2 separate regions of the Homo sapiens genome follow, and region 2 is linked to region 1. Evidence: fine-mapped expression QTL. A gene starts in region 1. The other region holds a variant in brackets. All regions are shown on one strand. Distances are between the middles of the regions. Region 1 holds the start of ATP5MJ (ATP synthase membrane subunit j). Region 2 has its middle 13 kb from the start of ASPG.

The links.
Region 2: its variant is fine-mapped to the expression of ATP5MJ in whole blood (INTERVAL, PIP above 0.99).

The regions. Positions count from the first base shown.
Region 1 is chr14:103,916,395-103,927,180 of GRCh38, forward strand. ATP5MJ (ATP synthase membrane subunit j) reads right to left here and starts at 5,135. Exons shown (of 4, transcript NM_004894.3): 1 at 5,076-5,135. RefSeq lists an enhancer at 4,790-5,465 and silencers at 5,100-5,272, 5,159-5,328.
Region 2 is chr14:104,066,847-104,077,632 of GRCh38, forward strand. No RefSeq gene overlaps it. Among named protein-coding and RNA genes, the nearest start is that of ASPG, 13 kb to the right of the region's middle. The variant T/TA (reference allele first, on the strand shown) is at 5,732.

The DNA of each region.
Region 1 (10,786 bases):
TAGCTGTCAGGAGTGACTAGATCTAAGCACTTCTCATTTCACTTGGAAACTGCTTTGGTTGGGTGTGGTGGCTCATGCCTGTAATCCCAGCGCTTTGGGAGGCTGATGTGGGAGGGTCACTTGAGTCCAGGAGCTCGAGACTAATTTGGGTAACATAGGGAGACCCCGTCTCTACAAAACATAAAAAATTAACCAGGTGTGGTGGTGCTTGCCTGGCTAATTTTTTATGTTAGTCACAGCTATTGGAAGACTGAGGTGGGAAGACTGCTTGAGCTTGGGTGGTTGAAGATGCAGTAAGCCATGATCACACCACTGCACTGCAGCCTGGGTGACAAAGTGAGACTCTGTCTCAAAAAAGAAAGAAAGAACTGCGCGTTGGCTGCGGCTGTAATGCTGCCTCCACCCCTCCCTCCCTCCACCCACTCACTGCTCCTTTCACATCACTGCTCAGGATCCAAAGAATCCGAATGCTCGGCAGTGTGCTCCCTTTCCCACACTGCGCAGCTGTGTGTGTCAGCTTTACCGCACTGAATCCTTCACAAGCCCAACCTAGTCAAAGGTCAAATGGCGGCCCTCAAATCACTGAAACCCGGATCGTGTGGTCATTTATTCACTTGGCAAATGTGCACTGAGCATGTACTAGGTGCCAGACATTGTTTTAGGAGCTGAGAAACAATAAAGGGTCAGGATATCTGGGAGAGGAATCCTCGGCATTGGCAGAGACTCCGAGGTCAGAATGAACTCGGAGAGCTGGAAGGAATAGGGAGGCCACAGTGCCAGATTCAAATCCTGGCTGTCACTTACTAGCTAACTTAAACCGCTTAAGTTTTCTCATCTGTAAAACAGGGATAAAAACAGGATCCACCTCAAGGGGTTGTTATGGAGAATAACATAGAATAACTCTATGTCAAATGTTGAGTGTCTGGTACTGTATATTAAATGCTTGTTACATAAAATACCATGGCTGGACTATGGGAAGGAAGATGGGCCATGTCATTTAAGGGCCTTGGAGGCTAGCATAGAATTTAGCTTTTATTCTAAAACTGTTCTCTAAATTTAACAACTTTTTTTTTTTTTGCTTTAGGGTTTTTTTGTTTCCCGTTTTGACAATATGAAGAAAATTCAGTTTAGAATCTGGAACTGGCCTGGATGGGATTCGAGGGCAGCTGGTGGGGGCTGCAGAGCCCCTTCGATTCCTCCCCCACCGTGGGAGCTAAGCTACTGGACAGAGGAGCACCAACAGGGCACCGAACCAGGAACTAAGTTAGTGTCTTGAGTCAGGCAAGAATGGGGAGGCCAGGCCGGAGCTACAGCAGGGACTGCCCTGATTGTGGTTAGTTCTGTCTCTAGCCCTTTAACAGCATTTTAAAAGTGCTTTTCGTACTTACTTCCTACACTGCTTCCCACTCCTATAAAGTGGGTACTTGGAGAAAGCTCCTATAAAGCGGGTACTCGGATCCCGCAGCAGGTTAGCAGGACTGCACTCACACCAAATCTGTACGTCATGCTCCTGATGACGAGAACCTACCTCCAACACCTGCTTTCCTGCTCTTCCCTATGAGAGGACTTATTTAGGCAAGGATGGTCGTGAGGGTGGCCTGAGGTCTGACCTTGCAGGATGCGACTGTGTCCTTCTCCTGGAACACCTTGCAGATAGTCCGCCCTCAAATTTCCTGTCCTCAAGCTACTCGAATGCTCTGACAGTGTGAGGTTCCAAGAAACGAACAGCCCTGCTTTGGGAATATGTCACAGATGATCCAAACAAGACCCAGAGGAGGTTTCTGGAAGCCCCAGACTAGGAGTTCAGAGGCATGGAGTGAATCCCTTGTCTCTCAGCAACGACTGGGAAGGAAGCATTCTACAGGACCGATGGGTTTGGAAGCCTGGGAATCCTGGGCTCCAACACCAGCTCTGCCTGGTCAGCTCTCAACTGTGGGCAAGTCCCTTTAGCTGTTGTTTCAGAGGTTTTTTTTTTTCTCTTTTTTGAGACGGAGTCTCGCTCTGTCACCCAGGCTGGAGTGCAGTGGCGGATCTCGGCTCATTGCAAGCTCCGCCTCCCGGGTTCACACCATTCTCCTGCCTCAGCCTCCCGAGTAGCTGGGACTACAGGTGCCCGCCACCACGCCTGGCTAATTTTTTGTATTTTTAGTAGAGACTTGGTTTCACTGTGTTAGTCAGGATGGTCTCGATCTCCTGACCTTGTGTTCTGCCCGCCTCGGCCTCCCAAAGTGCAGGGATTACAGGCGTGGGCCACCAGGCTCAACCCAGAGGTTTCTTTTTCTGTGAAACAGGGATACCTCCACCTGCCCCCAGAGGGCTGTCAATGCAATTCAAAGAGGAAACCAAGGCCGGGAGCGGTAGCTCACGCCTGTAATTCCAGCACTTTGGGGGTCCAAGGCAGGGAGATCAAGAGGTCAGGAGATCAAGACCATCCTGGCTAACACGGTGAAACCCCGTCTCTACTAAAAATACAAAAAATTAGCCGGGCGTGGTGGCGGGCGCCTGTAGTCCCAGCTACTCGGAAGGCCGAGGCAGGAGAATGGCGTGAACCCGGGAGGCGGAGCTTGCAGTGAGCCAAGATTGCACCACTGCACTCCAGCCTGGGTGACAGAGCGAGACTCCATCTCAAAAACAAAAACAAAGGAGAAACCTAAAGGACCCAGCCTAGTGCCTAGTGCCTGGTACGGAATAAAAATCCAGAGAATGGACTGGGCACGGTGGCTTACGCCTATAATCCCAGCATCTCGGGAGGCCAAGGTGGGCGGATCACTTAAGGTCAGTAGTTTGAGACCAGCCTGGCTAACATGGCGAAACCATCTCTACTAAAAATACAAAAACTAGCTGGGCATGGTGGTGGGCGCCTGTAATCCCAGCTACTCGGGAGGCTGAGGCAGGAGAATCGCTTGAACCCGGGAGGCGGAGCTTGCAGTGAGCCAAGATCGTGCCACTGCACTCCAGCCTGGGCAACAAGACACTCCCCCTTTATCTTAAAAAAAAAAAAAAAAAAAGAATTCAGTGACTGATCACAGCAGTAACAGAATTGATACAAATATCCAGTTCATGGCTATAATTAATACTAAGCCACTGGGACTCTAACAAGAAGGAAGGCTTAAAAAGACGCCCTCATTTAGGCCAGGTAGGGGCTTTGGACAGAACAAGGTAAGATGAGGGTCTATAAGGAAAAGGGCAAAGTAAACTGGGAGGGTACAATGACTACGGTAAGAAGGGACTAAAGAAACTGAGTCATGCTGACATTGTGCTCCGGGCCCAGGCACCCTGGTATGGTCTCCTTACAAAATTACCCTTAGTCCCCAGTGCAACAGGGGCCTGCTATTCAGTAGCTTGCAAATACCTTTCCCTTCCTTTCCCCTTGACTTCAGTTGCCATATTTGCCTGGACAAGTGACATGTTCCCAATACATAATAAAACGAGGGCCCCCCCTTTTTTTTTTTAGACAGAGTTTCAGTTGGTCATCAGGCTGGAGTGCAATGGTGCGATCGCGGCTCACTGCAACCTCCGCCTCCCGGGTGCAAGCGATTCTCCTGCCTCAGCCTCCCGAGTAGCTGGGACTACAAGAGGCCGCCACCACACCCAGCTAATTTTTGTATTTTTAGTAGAAACGGGGTTTCACCATGTTGGCCAGGATGGTCTCGGTCTCTTAACCTCGTGATCCGCCCGCCTCAGCCTCCCAAAGGGCTGGGATTACAGGCGTGAACCACCGCGTCCGGCCCCTACTTTTTTTTTTTTTTTGAGACAGTCTCGCTTTGTCACCCAGGCTGGAATGCAGTGACGCGATCTCGGCTCACTGCAACCTCCGCCTCCAGGGTTCAAGCGATTGTCCTGCCTCAGCCTCCTGAGTAGCTGGGAAGCTGGGACTACAGGCGCGTGCCACCACACTGGGCTAATTTTTTGTATTTTTGGTAAAGACGGGGTTTCACCGTGTTAGTCAGGATGGTCTCGATCTCTTGACCTCGTGATCCGCCCGCCTCGGCCTCCCAAAGTGCTGGGATTACAGGCGTGAGCCACCGCGCCCAGCTACATATTCCCAACACATAATAAAACGACAGCCCCTACTTTTTTTTTTTTTTTTTTTTTTAAGACGGAGTTTCACTCGGTCATCAGGCTGGAATGCAATGGCGCGATCTCGGCTCACTGCAACCTCCGCCTACCGAGTGCAAGCGATTCTCCTGCCTCAGCCTCCCGAGTAGCTGGGACTACAGGTGCCTGCCACCACACCCAGCTAATTTTTGTATTTTTAGTAGAGACGGCGTTTCACCATGTTGGTAAGGATGGTCTCGATCTCTTGACCTCGTGATCCGCCCGCCTCAGCCTCCCAAAGGGCTGGGATTACAGGCGTGAACCACCGCGCCCGGCCGGCCCCTTTCTTGAGTCCATTCTGCCCAGGCACATTTCCTAGCTGTGTGTGTCAGTTTTACAGCACCAGACCTTTTAAAAATCCATCTTATTCATAGGCCAAACGTGTGTCTACTGTATCCACTTAAGTCTGCAAAGTTTTGGCACATTACATTAAGGGCGAACTATTACCTGACACTGGAAATGGGAAATGTCTGACCCGCGAGTTCCATACAATTTCATTCAGCACCGTATGATCTCTTTTCAGCTTCCCTGTTGCCTCACCCAAGTTGTCATGTACAGCATAACGTGGAGGGCAGTGTGGCGCAAGGAAACTTGAGTTATAAAGGAGAGAAGGGACTGGATGTGGAGTCAGAGTTCTTGGCTTGGACTCTGGCTTCTCTAACTCTGCGTAGCCTCTGGGTTAGGCAGCTGAACCTCTCAAGGCCAAGGTACGCTCCCTGTCAAAACCGTGGGAGAATTCAGGTGCACTGAGCGCGTTAAGGCCAAGGAGGGAAACGCGGCGCAGGCCTAGGCGATGCTTCCCTCTGGCAACCGACCCTGGCCTACCTCCCTTCAGAGAAGGGAAAGCCGGGCAGAAAAGCAGGCGCGTGCCGGCGGAGGGGTGGAACCCCAAGATCAGCTGGGGCCAAGGCGGCTTCTCGCCCTCCCGCCCCCGCCGTCTCGCACCTCGGGAGCCAGGTCCAGGTCCCCGTACTCACCTTGGCGCAGGACAGACGGCTCAGAACGCACCACAAATCTGCAGCCAACTCGGAAAGGTCACCGAGCGCGCAGGCGCGCGCAGGGGATGCCGGGAAGGCGGAAGCAGCAGAGACGCCGCAAGGCCAGAGTGCCTCCCCAGCGGCGCCTCCGCACCACAGCGCCCCCGGCGGCCGCCTGGTGTCGCAGGCAAGAAGGGGCGGGGAGAGGGTGCGTTAGGGGTGTGCCCGCGTGTGTCACTGTGGGCTGGCTAATCCTCCACATCTTCCCACGACTGATGGGTTTCCTGGGACGCGGGACCTTCAACGCTGAAACTAGGAAAGTTCTAGACATACCGGGAGGGTTGGTTAACCTAAGAAAAGGGACCCTCTTTACTGTGACGTTAAAGACTAAGTCAAGTCTCCCATTTCAGTGGTGTGTCTTGTCCCTTTCTATTGTTAATTATTTAGCTCTGCATGTATAAAATATATATATTTGGAGACGGAGTCTCACTCTGTCGCCCACGCTGCAGTGCAGTGGCGCGATCTCGGCTCACTGCAACCTCCGCCTCCCGGGTTCAAGCGGTTCTCGTGCCTCAGCTTCCTGAATAGCTGGGATTACAGGCGCTGGTCACCAAGCCCAGCTAGTTTTTGTATTTTTAGCAAAGACGGGGTTTCACCATGTTGGCCAGGCTGGTCTTGAACTCCTGACCTCAGGTGATCCACCTGCCTCAGCCTCCCAAAGTGCTGGGATTACAGGCTTGAGCCACCGCGCCCGGCCTGCTCTGCATATTTTTATGTCTGTATTCTGTGCATATTCTTCTCAGCAGATAATATAAAACTTCCACAGGGGCTCCAGACACTGGGCTTAATAGTCTTAAAAATATATATATATATATATATTTTTTTTTTCAGAAATATTTTCCAGTAGAGAACTAGAAATCATAAAAGAAAAAAATTTAGCGAGCGGATCACCTGAGGTCAGGAGTTCAAGACCAGCCTGGCCGACATGGCGAAACCCCATCTCTACTAAAAATACAAAAATTAGCCGGGCTTGGTGGTGGGCGCCTGTAATCCCAACTGCTCAGGAAGCTGGGGCAGGAGAATCACTTGAACCCGGAGGGCAGGGGTTGCAGTGAGCCGAGATCTTTGCACTCCAGCCTGGGCGACAAGAGTGAAACGCCATCTCAAAAAAAAAAAAAAAAAAAAAAAAGCCAAATAAAAATTGGATGGAGGCTGGGCGCAGTGGCTCAGCACTTTGGGAGGCCTGTAATCTGTAATCTTAGCACTTTGGGAGGCCAAAGCAGGCAAACTGCTTGAGTTCAGGAGTTTGAGACCAGCCTGGCTAACATGGTGAAACCCCTTCTCTACTAAAAATACAAAAATTAGCTGGGTGTGGTGGTGGTGCGCACCTGTAATTCCAGGTACTTGGGAGGCTGAGGCAGGAGAATCGCTTGAACCCTGGAGGTGGAGGCTGCAGTGAGCTGAGATGGCGCCACTGTATTCCAGCTTGGGCGACAGAGCGAGACTCTGTCTCAAACAAACAAAACAAAAAATTGGATGGATTTGGCAGATTAGACAGTTAAAGAATAAACTGCAAGATCGAAGAAGCCATTCAGAAAATAAGAGGGATACAGCAGGAAAGATACCAATCATATGGGTAATTGGTATCTTAGAAGGAAATTAAAGAGGTGAGGCAGAAATATCTGAAGAGCTAATGGCTGAGAATTTTCCAAAAGTGATGAGAAAAAAATCATGCCAAAGATTCAAAAAGCCTTACAGAGGCCAGGCGCGGTGGCTTACGCCTGTAATCCCAGCACTTTAGGAGGCCAAGGCGGGCGGATCACCACACCATCCTGGCTAACACGGTGAAACCCCGTCTCTACCAAAAATACAAAAAAATTAGCTGGGTGTGGTGGTGGGTGCCTGTAGTCCCAGCTACTCCGGAGGCTGAGTGAGAGAATGGCGTGAGCCCGGGAGGCGGAGCTTGCAGTGAGCAGAGATGGCGCCACTGCACTCCAGCCAGGGAAACAGAGCAAGACTCCGTCTCAAAAACAAAAACAAAAAACAAAAAACAAACAAAAAGCCTTACAGAAACCAAGCAGGCAGATAAATAAAAATAAATCAATACCTTGAAATCTCACAATAAAGCCATAGAAAAGATAAAGATAAAATCTCAAAGAAAGTAACCACCAATCAAGAATTCTATACACAGGGAATTCTATACACAGGGAAATTGGCATTCAGAAAAGAAGGTAAAATAAAGACAGTTAAGGACAAACTAAGAGGAAATCGTGCTAGGCATGGTGGCTCATGCTTGTAATCCCAGCACTTTGGGAGGACTGCTTGAGCCCAGAATTTTGAGACCAGCCTGGCCAATGTATTAAGATCCCATCTTTAAAGGAAAAAAAAAAAGAGGAAATTATTAGGTTTTGAAGGGAAGGCAAGGGTTAAAGACAGACAAGACAGACACACACACACAGAGGGAGGGGGGGAGGGGAGAGGGGAGAGAGATGGTGGCTTCAACAGCAACACAGGTTTATTGCCAGCAAAAACCCGTGGAGCGGATAACCAGTTTAGTGCCCGAGCTCACTGCCGCTTCCAGGCTGGGGTAATTATAGGTCTGGGCTGGATGGGTCTGGGCAGTATGGCTTGCTGCCTGGCAGGATGTGATAAGGATGTTCCCGCAGTCAGGCAGTTGGGCAGGATGTTTCTTATGGTCAGAGCCCCCATGGAATGTTTCACTCCGACCAGGGTCTGTGAAATGGTGGGGGGTTTATAAAATGGTGCAGCTAGGACTGAAATAATCACAAGCAGATCCACAGTAAAATAAATGTTCATTATTCAGGCACAAGGAAAACGAGCTCAGATGTGTCAAGATAAAATAATAAAAGGCTCAAGATCCAGTTAAAATCATTTTTTTTCTTTTTTGAGATGGAGTCTTGCTGTGTCGCCCAGGCTGGAGTGCAGTGGTGCGATCTTTGAAAATGTAAAAGTGTTATTCCTCTCACACACACACACACACACACACACACACACAATGTTTTTTGGAAAACATAGTGACGTTTTAGAAAAATACACTGTTTAACATCAAACGGGTTTATCATTTTAAAATAAATAAGTAAAAACATTTCTCAGTTGTAATCCCTGATAGACATAACCCACATAAACAAAATCTCTTTAGGGTCCTCAGCAACTTTTAAGAGTGTAAAGGGGTTCTGAGACAGAACCAGGTTTGAGAACCACTGTCCTATAGTAAAAATGTTTTAGAGTTTTAGATTTATAATGACTTATAACACTGCTGAGGACGAGAACAAGCATTTAGGAAAAACTTAAGGAAGAACATCATGGAGAGCTGCTTCAAGACAGAGCTTCTGAACTTCCAACTAGACTTGAGATCAATAGACTTTGCTATGTTGCCCAGGCTGGTCTTGAACTGCTGGCCTCAAGTGATCCTCCCACCTTGACCTCTCAAAGTGTCAGAATTACAGGCGTGAGCCACTGTGCTCAGACCAAGAGAGTTTTAATGTCTTTAGTTTCAAATCCAAAACACCCTAAGAAACGCACATCTTAAAAAAAAAAAACAACCAAATGTTTCTTTTTTTTTTTTTTTTTTTTTTGAGATAGAGTCTTGCTCTGTCGCCCAGGCTGGAGCACAGTGGCGTGATCTTGGCTCACTGCAAGCTCTGCCTCCCGGGTTCACGCCATTCTCCTGCCTCAGCCTCCCAAGTAGCTGGGACTACAGGCGCCCGCCACCACGCCAGGCTAATTTTTTGTATTTTTAGTAGAGATGGTTTTTCACCGAGTTAGCCAGGATGGTGTCGATCTCCTGACCTCGTGATCCGCCCGCCTTAGCCCCCCAAAGTGCTGGGATTACCGGTGTGAGCCACTGCGCCCGGCCAAAAAAACCTAAATGTTTAAGGAAAGGGCCACTCCAGCAGATTTATTCAAAGTGCAGAATGTTGCATCTTGTGGTAGGAAGGCTGGAGAAGACAGCAAGCTACTTCGAGCACAGCTTCCTCTGCTTTGAGGAGAGTGCTGCTGAATGGCACCAACACCATTTGTAACTGCTCTCAGCTGTTAGTTTCCCCTTTTTGGTGGACGCTCAAATGCTCAGTGAATGCAAATATGCAAAACCTTCCCAAAATACCATGGCTCACTAGGGGTTCAGTGGCCTTCCCATGTGTTCTGGCCTAGATGTGACAAGTCCATGAAGATCTATCTGATGTCAAGCTGTTTCTTGTTTCTTTTTTCTTTTTTGAGACAGAGTCTTGCTCTGCCGCCCAGGCTGGAGTGCAGTGGTGCGATCTTGGCTCACTGCAACCTGCACCTCCTGGGTTCGAGCGATTCTCCTGCCTCAGCCTCCCGAGTAGCTGGGATTACAGGTGCGCGCCACTACACCCAGCTAATTTTTGTATTTTTAGTAGAGATGGGGTTTCATCATGTTGGTCAGGCTGGTCTTGAACTCCTGACCTCACGATCTGCCCACCTCAGCCTCCCAAAGTGCTGGGATTACAGTCGTGAGCCACCGCGCCCAGCCCAAGCTGTTTCTTTTAACTCTGAACTTTGGACAGCAATGCAAGGTGAACTTGACCAAGTGAGTTGGGAGCACCGAGAACTACTGAATCAAATGAAAGGTGCTCAAAGCCATTCAGTCTGTGATGATTCAGAATGTTAACTAGTGTTTGGTCAGGAAACACTATGGCAACTTTCCAAATTGGCAAATTTCCAAAGAAGCATCAAGAGAGTATCTTTGGATTGCAATTAAAAAAAAAATCAAAACTCAGAAGGATTAGCTAGTAGCCCAAAAGATCAAAGAATATAGAAAATGCCCCCCAGAAAATGTTTTTGAAAAGCATCTTCCACTTAAAATCGTATTCATTGTGACATCAACAAAGGATGACAGCACACGGTAACAGCAACATCCTAGAAAAACAGGCCAGGCGCGGTGGCTCACGCCTATGATCCCAGCATTTTGGGAGGCCGAGGCGGGCGGATCATGAGGTCAGGAGATTGAGACCTTCCTAGCCAACATGGTGAAACCCCGTCTCTACTAAAATACAAAAAATTAGCCAGCCATGGTGGTGCATGCTTGTAGTCCCAGCTACTCCGGAGGATGAGGCAGGAGAATTGCTTGAACCTGGGAGGCAGAGGTTGCAGTGAGCTATCGCGCCACTGCACTCCAGCCTGGTGACAGAGCAAGACTCCGTCTCAAAACAACAACAAAAAACAAAACAAAACAAGTGTGAGTTCTGGAGTTGCTTCAAGTGGTTTCAATATATTTTGTAAAATTTTGAATTATGTCCTAGCCTCCACATACAGTGTGAAGTTACAATATTTTCCAATCAATGCTGAATGACATACCATGAGTCTCAATTACTTTATGATTACCTTTTTTCTTATTTTTTGAAAAACATGACTGGGCATGGTGGTTCATGCTTGTAGTCTCAACACTTTGGGAGGCCAAGGGCTCCCAAACAGATTGCTTGAGCCCAGGAGCTTGAGACTGGCCTGGGCAACACAGCGAAACCCCTGTCTGTACTAAAAATATAAAAAATTAGCCGGTGTGGTGGTGGCGTGAGCCTGTAGTTCCAGCTATGCAGGAGGTTGTGGTGGGAGCATCACCTGAGCCCCCGAAGTTGAGGCTGCAGTGAGCCCTGATTGCAGCACGGCACTCCAGCCTCAGCGACAGGAGTGAGACCCTGCCTCAAAAGAAAAAAGAAAAGCAAGTTATT
Region 2 (10,786 bases), 150 kb after region 1:
TAGCCATGGCTGGAGCTGAGAGTGTCGGGGACACAGGGTGCCATGGCCTGAGGCTGCACAGAGCAGTGGGGCCCTGGATCTGGCCCACAAAACCATTTTTCCCTCCTAGTCCTCCAGGCCTGTGATGGGGGGTGCGGCAGTGAAGGTCTCTGAAGTGCCCTGGAGGCATTTTTCCCATTGTCTTGGCTATTAATTAACATTTGGCTCATCTTATGCAAATTTCTGCAGCCTTGACTTTTTCCCCAGGAAATTTTTTTTGCTGCATAATGAGGCTGCAAAATTTCCAAACTTTTATGCTCTGCTTCCCTTTTAAATGTAAGTTCTAGTTTCAGGTCATTTCTTTGTTTATGAAAATGAGTATAGGCTTTTAGAAGCAGCCAGGCCACATCTTGAATGCTTTGCTGCTTAGAAATTTCTTCCAGATACCCTAAATCATTTCTCTCAAGTTCAAAGTTCCACAGATCTCTAGAGCAGGGACATGATGCCACTGGTCTCTTTGCTAAAGCATAGCAAGAGTGACCTTTACTCCAGTTCTCAGTAAGTTCCTCATCTCCATCTGACACCACCTCAGCCTGGACTTCACTGTCCATATAACTATCAGCATTTTGGTTACAACCATTCAACAAGTCTCTAGGAAGTTCCAAACGCTCCCTCATCTTTCTGTTTTCTTCTGAGGCCTCCAAACTGTTCCAACCTCTGCCCGTTACCCACTTCCATCCAAAGTTGCTTCCTTATTTTCAGGCATCTTTATTGCACTGCCCCACTTCTCTGGTACCAGTTTTCTGTATTCATTTGTTCTCACACTGCTCTAAAGACATACCTGGAACTGGGTAATTTATTGATAATAGACATTTAATTGGCCCATGGTTCTGCAGGCTGTACAGGAAGCATGGCTGGGGAGATCTCAGGAAACTTAGAATCATAGAGAAAGGTGAAGGGGAAGCAGGTACAATCTTCACATGGTGGAGCAGAAGAGAGAGGGTGAAGGGGGAGGTGCTACATCCTTTTAAACAACCAGATCTAGTGAGAACTCACTATCACGAGAACAGCAAGGGGGAATCCACCCCCAGGATCCAATCACCTCCCACCAGGTCCCTCCCCCAACATTAGGGATTACTGTGCAACATGAGATTTGGGTGGGGACACAGAGCCAAACCATATCAACAGGGTTGTGATTTTGGAGTCAGGGTGCCTTGTAGATGGAGTTTCCTAATTTCGAATTGCTGCCTCTTCTCTTATTCTTCACCCTGCAGCCATAGGTTTTTTCTCAATGCACCTCTGAGCAGCAGCAGGTGTACGAGGCCTCTAGTCAAGCCTGGATGTGCTCCTGCAGCTGTCTTGTGAACTTCACCTGTAGCCAGAATCATTGGCCAAGCCCCATGTAGATGCCGTGGGAAAATCATATGTGGCTATCAGCGGATACTGAAAAGGGATCCATTTGAGGTTCAGCACCCATTCCTAACTTAAAAGAAGAAATAAAACATGTAAAATAGAAATAGGAAAAAGCTACAGTAGTTTTTGCATTGCATGGAGGGCCAGCATCATAAAAATGGTGGTTCTGCAAGCCGAAACTGTGCAGAGCAATCCTACTGAGAAGCAGCTGCTCCATCACCTGTGAAGCAGTACAGTAAAAACTCCCACTGTTTGTTATTGGTTACAAATGTGTAGAGAAATGAAAAGAGCAGTAAAACTAATGTATTTAGCACACTGTGATTTGAAACACTAGAAACATTGGGATTAAAGCATTTTGTCTCTTTCTAAAGTCCCGTCAATAGTAGTTTAAACAGCACTTGCCGCCACTGCCTCTTCCTACAACTTCCGCTTCTGGGCTTCTGGCCGAGCATCTTCTCCGGGGCCTGTTGAGTTGCCACGCTCCTTTCTAGTTGGATCGGCTTCCAACACTGTATCATTTGCACATCCCGTGTTGCAAAATGCCTCCCAGAGTTCCTTTCATTTGCGGTTTTTTGCTGGCGTCACACCCCCGAGGCTGTCTTCATCCTTCTCGTCACAACTGTTTGCTCATTGTGAAGATTAATACTGAGTGTCAACTTGATTGGATTGAAGGATGCAGAGTATTGATCCTGGGTGTGTCTGTGAGGGTGTTGCCAAAGGAGACTCACATTGAATCAGCGGATTGGGAGAGGCAGACCCACCCTCCATCTGGGTGGGCACCATCTCATCAGCTGCCAGCGTGGCTAAAGTAAAGCAGGCAGAAGAAAGTGGAATGAGAGAGACTTACTGTCTTCCAGCCTTCATCTTTCTCCCGTGTTGGATGTTCCAAGTTCTTTAGCTTTTGGGCTCTTGGACTTACACCAGCGGTTTGCCAGGGACTCTTGGGCCTCTGGTCACAGACAAGGCTGCACTGTTGTCTTCCCTGCTTTGAGGGTTTTGGGACTCGGACTGGCTTCCTGGCTCCTCAGCTTGCAGACGGCCTATTGTGGGACTTCACCTTGTGATTGTGGGAGTCAATACTCCTTAATAAACTCCCCTTTGTATATACGTACATCCTATTAGTTCTGTCCCTTTAGAGCACCTTAATACACTCATTTACGCAGACAGGCTGCCCCCTCTCAGCCTCTCTGGCTGCACCGCTGGAGCCCCTGGTTGGCAGCAGCGTCCACGTTCCCTCCCTCAGCTGTTTTCTCTGTGACCTCACTTAGGTTTCATTCAAATGTCACTTCCAGGGTTGTCACATTTCATTTCTTTGCTGCATTTTCACCTTTGTGGGTTGGTTCCCTCTTTCCATTTTCATAAACTGTCGTGTGGGCTTATCACTGGGAGGCAAGGAGGCAACAAACTTTTCTGTGTGAGCTGAATAACAGGTGCTCAGTGATCAATTCCTGATGGGCTTTGAAAGAAGTGTCGGGATGGGTTCCTGATCTGATGCACACCTGTGATTTGCACATTTGTGGGTTGAAGAGTTGGCAGCACAGTTTACTCTTCGTGCGGTTTCTCACGGTTGTATGCCAGGGAGACCGGTACTTGAATTGTGCTGTTGGGGGGGGGGGCTTTGTTACTGAACTATGGTAACAGAAATGCGTGCATATCACAGCTGTGTAAAGTAAGGACTACCCATACTGAAATGTGATGAAAATCAAAAAATAATGGTAAACGTTCTTTTAAGTGGCAAAACATTAAAGCCATTTCAGTTAAAATTAGAAACTGGTCAGGGATGTGTACTCTTCCTGTTACTTAACAATCACTTGAAGGCCCGAAATTATAATGAGAAAAGAAAGATGAAATAACCGACGTAACATTAGACAAGAAGAGAGAAAGCTCTTTTTGCTGCTCTGATGTGTACACGTGTTGAGGATACCCAAGTCCACCCCAGGTTCAGTAATTCACCAGGACTTGTAGGACTTAGCATGCAGTTGTGCTCATGGGTGAGATTTACTATCGTGAAAGGATGCAGAGAAAATCACAGGGAAAAGACACGGGATGAAGTCCAGAGAAAATCAGGTCCTCTGCTGGGGGAGTCACACAGGACATTCTTAGTTTGTCCACAGCATGTTGTGATAATGTGGGTGAAGTGTGTGTGCCAGGGAAGCTCATCAGAATCTCAGTGCCCATGTTTTTATTGGGGACTGGTCATGTAGGAACCCTCTGCCTAGCATGTGCCAAAATTACAGACTCCCAGTTCAGTGTAGACCACATTGTTTGTTCAAATAGTTGAGGCACAGTGAGACACCCATGTCAGAGAATGGTGGGAACCCTCCTAAAATTCAGGCTCCCGGCTGCCAATCAAGGGCCAACTTTGGAAGCAGACCTTTCTAAGGAGTGCAATCTTGGGCTTGCTGTGTGAATTCTTTTTCTGCATAACCTAGAAGACCCCCTGCTATAATAACATATTTTGCTAAGGCTTCTGGATATAAGCTAAAGATACAAAAGCCATGGGCTTCTCCGCTGTGGCAATAAGAACCTAGCAATGGAGAAAACATTCTGTGTGGCCAGGCGCGGTGGCTCATGCCTGTAATCCCAGCACTTTGGGAGGCCGAGGTGGGTGGATCACGAGGGCAGGGGATCAAGACCATCCTGGCTAACACGGTGAAACCCCATCTCTACTAAAAATACAAAAAATTAGCCAGGCGTTGTTGCGGGCACCTGTAGTCCCGGCTACTCGGGAGCCTGAGGCAGGAGAATGGCGTGAACCTGGGAGGCGGAGCTTGCGGTGAGCCAAGATTGCCATATGGAGTTTTAATGCTTATGTACTCAAATATGTTTGTATCTTTTTACATGGCTTCTGATTTTCCAATCTAGGTTAATATTACCTAAAATGTGCATACAGTAGAATTCTATTCTTAGGCATTTATTCATCTCCACAAATTTTAAGATACTTTTTATCCAATTCCCAAAAGACACTGTTGAGATTCACTGCACTCCAGCTTGGGCAACAGAGCGAGACTCCATCTCAAAAAAACAAGCAAACAAAACAAAACAAAAGACATTCTATGTATGTGGTGAAAAAAAATAAGATGTTTTAGAATAAAGGTGTAGGACCTATCCCTAAGTGAAGAAAACTGAGATCTTATTGAAAGACATAAAATTGGCCAGGTGCAGTGGCTCACGCCTGTAATCCCAGCACTTTGGGAGGCCGAGGTGGGCAGATCACCTGAGGTCAGGAGTTCGAGACCAGCCTGGCCTGACGTGGTGAAACCCCATCTCTACTGAAAATACAAAAATTAGCTGGGTGTGGTGACATGAGCCTGTAATCCCAGCTACTCAGGAGGCAGAGGCAGGAGAATTGCTTGAACCCAGGAGATGGAGGTTGCAGTGAGCTGAGATTGCACCACTGCACTCCAGCCTGGATGTCAAGAGCGAAACTCTGTTTCAAAAAAAAAAAAAAAAAAAAAAAAAAGACGTAAAATCCAGATGGCTGAAAAAGCGCAGCTGAGAAGATTTCATATAACTTTTGTCAACTCTCCCAAGTTAATACGAAAATGTAATTCCAATTAGAATCTCAACAGTGTCTTTTGGGAATTGGATAAAAAGTATCTTAAAATTTGTGGAGATGAATAAATGCCTAAGAATAGAATTCTACTGTATGCACATTTTAGGTAATATTAACCTAGATTGGAAAATCAGAAGCCATGTAAAAAGATACAAACATATTTGAATACATAAGCATTAAAACTCCATATGGCAAAAGATACCCATGTTTGGCGATATAACATTTTAAAAACCTCATATAGCAAAAGATACCATAACCAATCAGTGGATAGGTTAGATTGCATAGATTGATGTAAACAACAAAGGGTTAATATGTATACACAAAAACCTTTTTAAAAATTGTCAGGCAAGGCTGGGAGTGGTGGCTCACACTTGTATTCCCAGCACTTTGGGAGGCCAAAGCAGGAGAATTGCTTGAAGTCAGGAGTTCAAGATCACAGTAAGACCTGATCTCTTTCTCTCTCCCTCTTTTTTTTTTTTTTTTAAGATGGAGTCTCACTCTGTCACCCAGGCTGGAGTGCAGTGGTGTGATCTCGGCTCACTGCAACCTCTGCCTCCCGGGTTCAAGTGATTCTTGTGCCTCAGCCTCCTGAGTAGCTGGGATTATAGGTGCCCACCACCACGCCTGGCTAATTTTTGTATTTTTTTTTAGTACAGATGGGGTTTCACCATGTTGGCTAGGCTGGTCTCGAACTCCTGACCTCAAGTGATCTGCCTGCGTTGGTCTCCCAAAGTGCTGGGATTACATGTGTGAGTCACCGTGCCCGACTGAGACCTGATGTCT[T/TA]AAAAAAAAAAAAAAAAAGTTACAGGTGGTGAGTGCCTGTAGTCCCAGTACCTCAGGAGGCTGAGGCGGGAGGATTGCTTGAGCCCAAGAGTTTGAGGCTGCAGTGAGCCATGAATACACCACTGCATTCTAACCTGAGTGACAGCAAGACTCTGAGAAATAAAATTTTAAAAAATTGTCAGGGAAGAGCACAAGAGTCAAACAGGAAACCACGACAATGATATGAATAACTGTCCAAATGACTAACACGTGAAAATGCTCAAATTCCTTAGTAGTAAGGGAATCATAAATCAGTGAGCTTTATAGACTGGCAAGATTTTAAAAAGAGCTGTATGGCTTGTTGTTGGGGAGGTGGAGGGAAGAAATACTTGCATATTGCTGGTAAATGTATGAAGTCTTAAAGTTTCTTTTGGAAGTCAATCTGGCAACATCTGGGAAAATTAAAAACAGGCATATCCTTTGACTTAGATATGTCAGGACAACTGTACAGTGTAATAACTGAACACTAGAAATGATGAATGTCACACAAAAGGAAACGGTAAACATGTTATAGCAGTCAATGTCAAGAAATACCGTGCAGCCATGTGAAGAGTGAGGTGAGAGTTACAGCTGTTGGCCTGAAAAGATGTCCACAAGATACGGCAAGTGAGAAAGAAAGATGCAAAAGTGTGCGTAATATCTTCCTAAAAATCAGTAACCAGGCTGGGTGCAATGGCTCACACCTGTAATCCCAGTACTTTGGGAGGCTGAGGTAGGCAGATCACTTGAGGTCAGGAGTTCAAGGCCAGCCCAGCCAACATGGTGAAACCCCATCCCTACTAAAAATACAAAAAATTAGCTGGGCATGGTGGCACGTGCCTGTAATCCCAGCTACTTGGGAGGATGAGGCAGGAAAATCACTTGAACCCGGGAGGTGGAGGTTGCAGTGAGCCGCGATTGTGCCACTGCACTCCAGCCTGGGCAACAGAGTAAGACTGTGGAAAAAAAAAATTCAGTAACCAGAAAACGCACATAGATGTATCTGTGTAAGTGTGTATGTGCTTGTGCATGTCGGGATGGGATTAAGAGCACAGAGAACAACGTGGAAGGATGTTCTAGATAATGACCTCGGTCATCCAAGGTGGGAGATGATGGAACTGGGTGGTAATGAGGGTAAAGGGAGAGAGGGAGCCATGGATAGATGGGAACACGATTATGCCAATGCATGCATCTGATCACACTTACTCACCAAAAATACATAAATCCATGAGTTGTTATCTGTGGCAGAATTTATACTGTTTTTCCCCCTTTTCTGTTCTGTAACAGAACCTGGTTCTCTTGAGAAGGCAGCAGTGTGTTTACCTACGAGATTACGTTTCCCAGCATCTCTTGCAGCTAGGCATGGCCATGTGGCTAGTTCTGACCAATGAGATGAAAGCAGGAAGTGGTTAAAGCCTCCTCCCTTAAAAGGGAGACAGGTTACCGCTGGGCCCTTTCATTCCTTTAGATGTCTTCCTGCTTCCCTGGAGTGCACACATGATGGCTGGTGCTTGAGCAGCCATCTTCAACTTTGAGGGGACCTTAAGAATGGAAACCATTGACAAACAATGGCAGAATCTGGGTTCCTCTCAACCATAGAGCCATCCCACCAGCCTGGACTGCCTACCTGGAGACTTCTTTTATGTGGGAGAGAAATTAACTTTTTAAAGCCTCTGTTAGGTTTGGTCTGTGTTATAAGCAGCCATAGTTCCTGTTTAAAACAGTATGTACTAAAAAACCCAAGAAGTCAAAAGAATACACATTCAATCACAAAGTGCTAAGCTGCAGATGGAGTATTAAAAGTGGGAATTAAGAGACCACAGTAAATGAGGTATCCTAGACCGCATGTGGTCGTGTATATTTGCTTCCAGGCTATTTATTCAGAATTGCCTAAGCTCAAAGTAACTTAACCAAAACCTACTTTCTACTCTGAAAAGTTCAGGCTTGCTTCCATTTAGAAGCACAGGCAGTATCTCAATAATCGGAATTCAGGTAACAAAGCATTTATTAAGCATCTTCTCTCTCCACCATAAAGTAACCACTCTAAGGAAGACAGAAGATGTACATGACCCAGTTCCTGATGCCACGTTAAGACTCACTGAGAAACTAGGGCACAGTAGCAAATGCTGTAATGAAATACTGGGGCGAGGAAGTACTACGGCCTTTAGGCAGGTTCTTGATTATTCTCTGGATTCACTTTTGTATTTGGAAGATCTTAGTACATTCATTTGAAAAGGCTTTTTAAGCAAGAGAAAGATGCCATTATAACCTCAGAGAAGTGCAGTCGTGTGTCACTTGACAGGGATACGTTCTGAGAACTGTGCCATTAGGCGATTTTGTTGTGTGAACGTCATGGAGTACACTTAGACAAACCTAGATGGTACAGCGTATGACACACCTAGGCTATCTGGTGGAGCCTATTCCTCTACTAAGAACCTCTGCAGCATGTGACTACCGAATACTGGAGGCAATTTTGTTTGTTTGTTTGTTTGTTTTTGAGAGGGAGTCTCGCACTTTCGCCCAGGCTGGAGTGCAGTGGTGCAATCTTGGCTCACTGCAAGATCTGCCTCCTGGGTTCACGCCGTTCTCCTGCCTCAGCCTCCTGAGTAACTGAGACTACAGGTGCCCACCACCATGCAAGGCTAATTTTTTATATTTTTAGTAGAGACGGGGCTTCACCATGTTAGCCAGGATGATCTTGATCTCCTGACCTCATGATCCACCCGCCTTGGCCTCCCAAAGTGCTGGGATTACAGGTGTGAGCCACCGTGCCCGGCCTACTGTAGGCAATTGTAACACATTGGTAAGTATCTAAACATGGAAAAGTACAAGAAAAATATAGTATCATCTTATGGAACCACTGTCCTCTAGGTGGTCTGTTGACCAGAATGTCATGATGTGGCACATGGCAGTAGTATAATGCGGAAATCTGACTGGCAAAGACTTTAGGGGAGTCTCTCAGGTTAGACTGTGTTTCTGAAGATCTGTAATTAGAAAGGGGCATAGAATCACTTACATAATATTTTCTGCTTAAATTGTATTTTATAATGAGATCCTTATACGTGGGCTTTAGTAAACCCGTTCAAGACTAGGGGATGTTTTTTCCCCTCGTAAATTGAGAAATGTCACTGAGAACAGCACTGCCATCTAGCCCGTTTCTCTCAGAACTGCAGGTTTTGCCTCTGCAGCTTTTGACTTTGTAGGCAAAAGGTGAAGTTTCTCCTGCAGCTTTTGACTTTGTAGGCAAAAGGTGAAGTTTCTCTAAATACTAGCTCGCAAACTATCAATAGAAGCAAATACCTGAGAACTGAAGAAAACCCCCAACAATTGGAAACATCGATGAGAAATAATGGCAAGTTAAGAAAGCATAGCTTCTTCCAACTTTGTGAGGCATATTTAGAAAGAATTTGGAAAAGGTGGAAGGGTGGGATGGGGGTGAGGGATGAGAAATTACCTATTGGGTAGAATGTATACTTTTATTAGAGTGACAGTTACATTAAAAGTCCAGACTTTACTAGGCAACATATCCATGTAACAAGACTGCATCTGTACCCCCTAAATCTATCAAACAAAAGTTTAAAAAGACACTGGGCATGGTGGTTCATGCCTGTAATCCCAGCACTTTGGGAGGCCAAGGCAGGAGGATGGCTTGAGCCTGGGAGTTTGAGACCAGTCTGGGCAATACAGTGAGACCCCCATCTGCAGAAAAATAAAATCGCCAGGTGTGGTGGTGTGTGCCTGTAGTCCCAGCTACTTGGGAGGCTGAGGTGGGAGGATTGCTTGAGCCCAGGAGTTTGAGGCTGCAGTGAGCTATGATCGTGCCACTGCACTCCAACCTGGGTGACAGAGTGAGACCTTGTCTCAAAAAAATGAAAAAGAGAAAGTATGCTTACATTTGCCCATCCTAGCTACACATGTAAGCCTGAGTAATATGAACCAATGGAGAAATAAACAAGTTCTAATAACATTCTCAGAGTTTGCTTACAAGAAAAAGAGTTTGGAGAACTGTTAGATTAAGAGTTTTGTTGTTACTGCTCATTTAGGTTCATTGTAACAACTTTTGATTTGGGATGGTATAAGACTAAAGGATAGTTTAGGGTAAGAAATAGAACTTCAGCATTGATAGTCTGTGTTCCCTCCTCCTTTTTTCACATAGCTGTAGATTAGAGATTCTTGTTTCCCCTTTAAAATTGTTTGAGGCATAATTTGCAGAGAAATGTACAGATCTGAATTATAGTGCAGATATAGCATTGATGAATTGATACACCCATGTGACCACACCGCTGCTAGGATAACAGTATTTCCATCACCACAGGAAGTTCCCATAGATACAACCGCCCTTCTGATTACTTTCACTATAGATTTGTTTTGTTTTGAGACAGTGTCTTGTTCTGTTACCCAGACTGGAGTGCAGTGGCGTGATCTCGGCTCACTGCAGCCTCCGCCTCCCAGGTTCAAGCAATTCTCCAGCTTCAGCCTCCCAAGTAGCTGGGGCTACAGGCTCATGCCACCATGCCTGGCTAATTTTTGTATTTTTAGTAGAGACAAGGTTTCACCATGTTGGTCAGGCTGGTCTCAAACTCCTGACCCCAAGTGATCTGCCTGCCTTGGCCCCCAAAAATGCTGGGATTACAGGCGTGAGCCACCGTGACCAGCCTATAGATTAGTTTTGATTGTTGTAAAAGTTCATGTAAATGGAATCCTACAGTATGTAATGTTTTGTATCAGGCTGCTTTTGCTCAATATAATGTTTGTTTGAGGTTTATTTATGTTATAGCAGCACAAAACAGACCAAGATACACGTTTAAGTCAATAATTTGTTCTTTTGTTTTCTATTGTATAAATATACCAGTTTCTTGGCTGGGCATGGTGGCTTATGCCTGTAATCCCAGCACTTTGGGAAGCTAAGGTGAGTGGGTCACCTGAGGGCAGGAGTTCGAGACCAGCCTGGCCAACATGGTGAAACCTCGTCTCTCCTAAAAATACAAAAATTAGCCAGACGTGGTGGTGATCGGCCCCTGTAATCACAGCTACTCC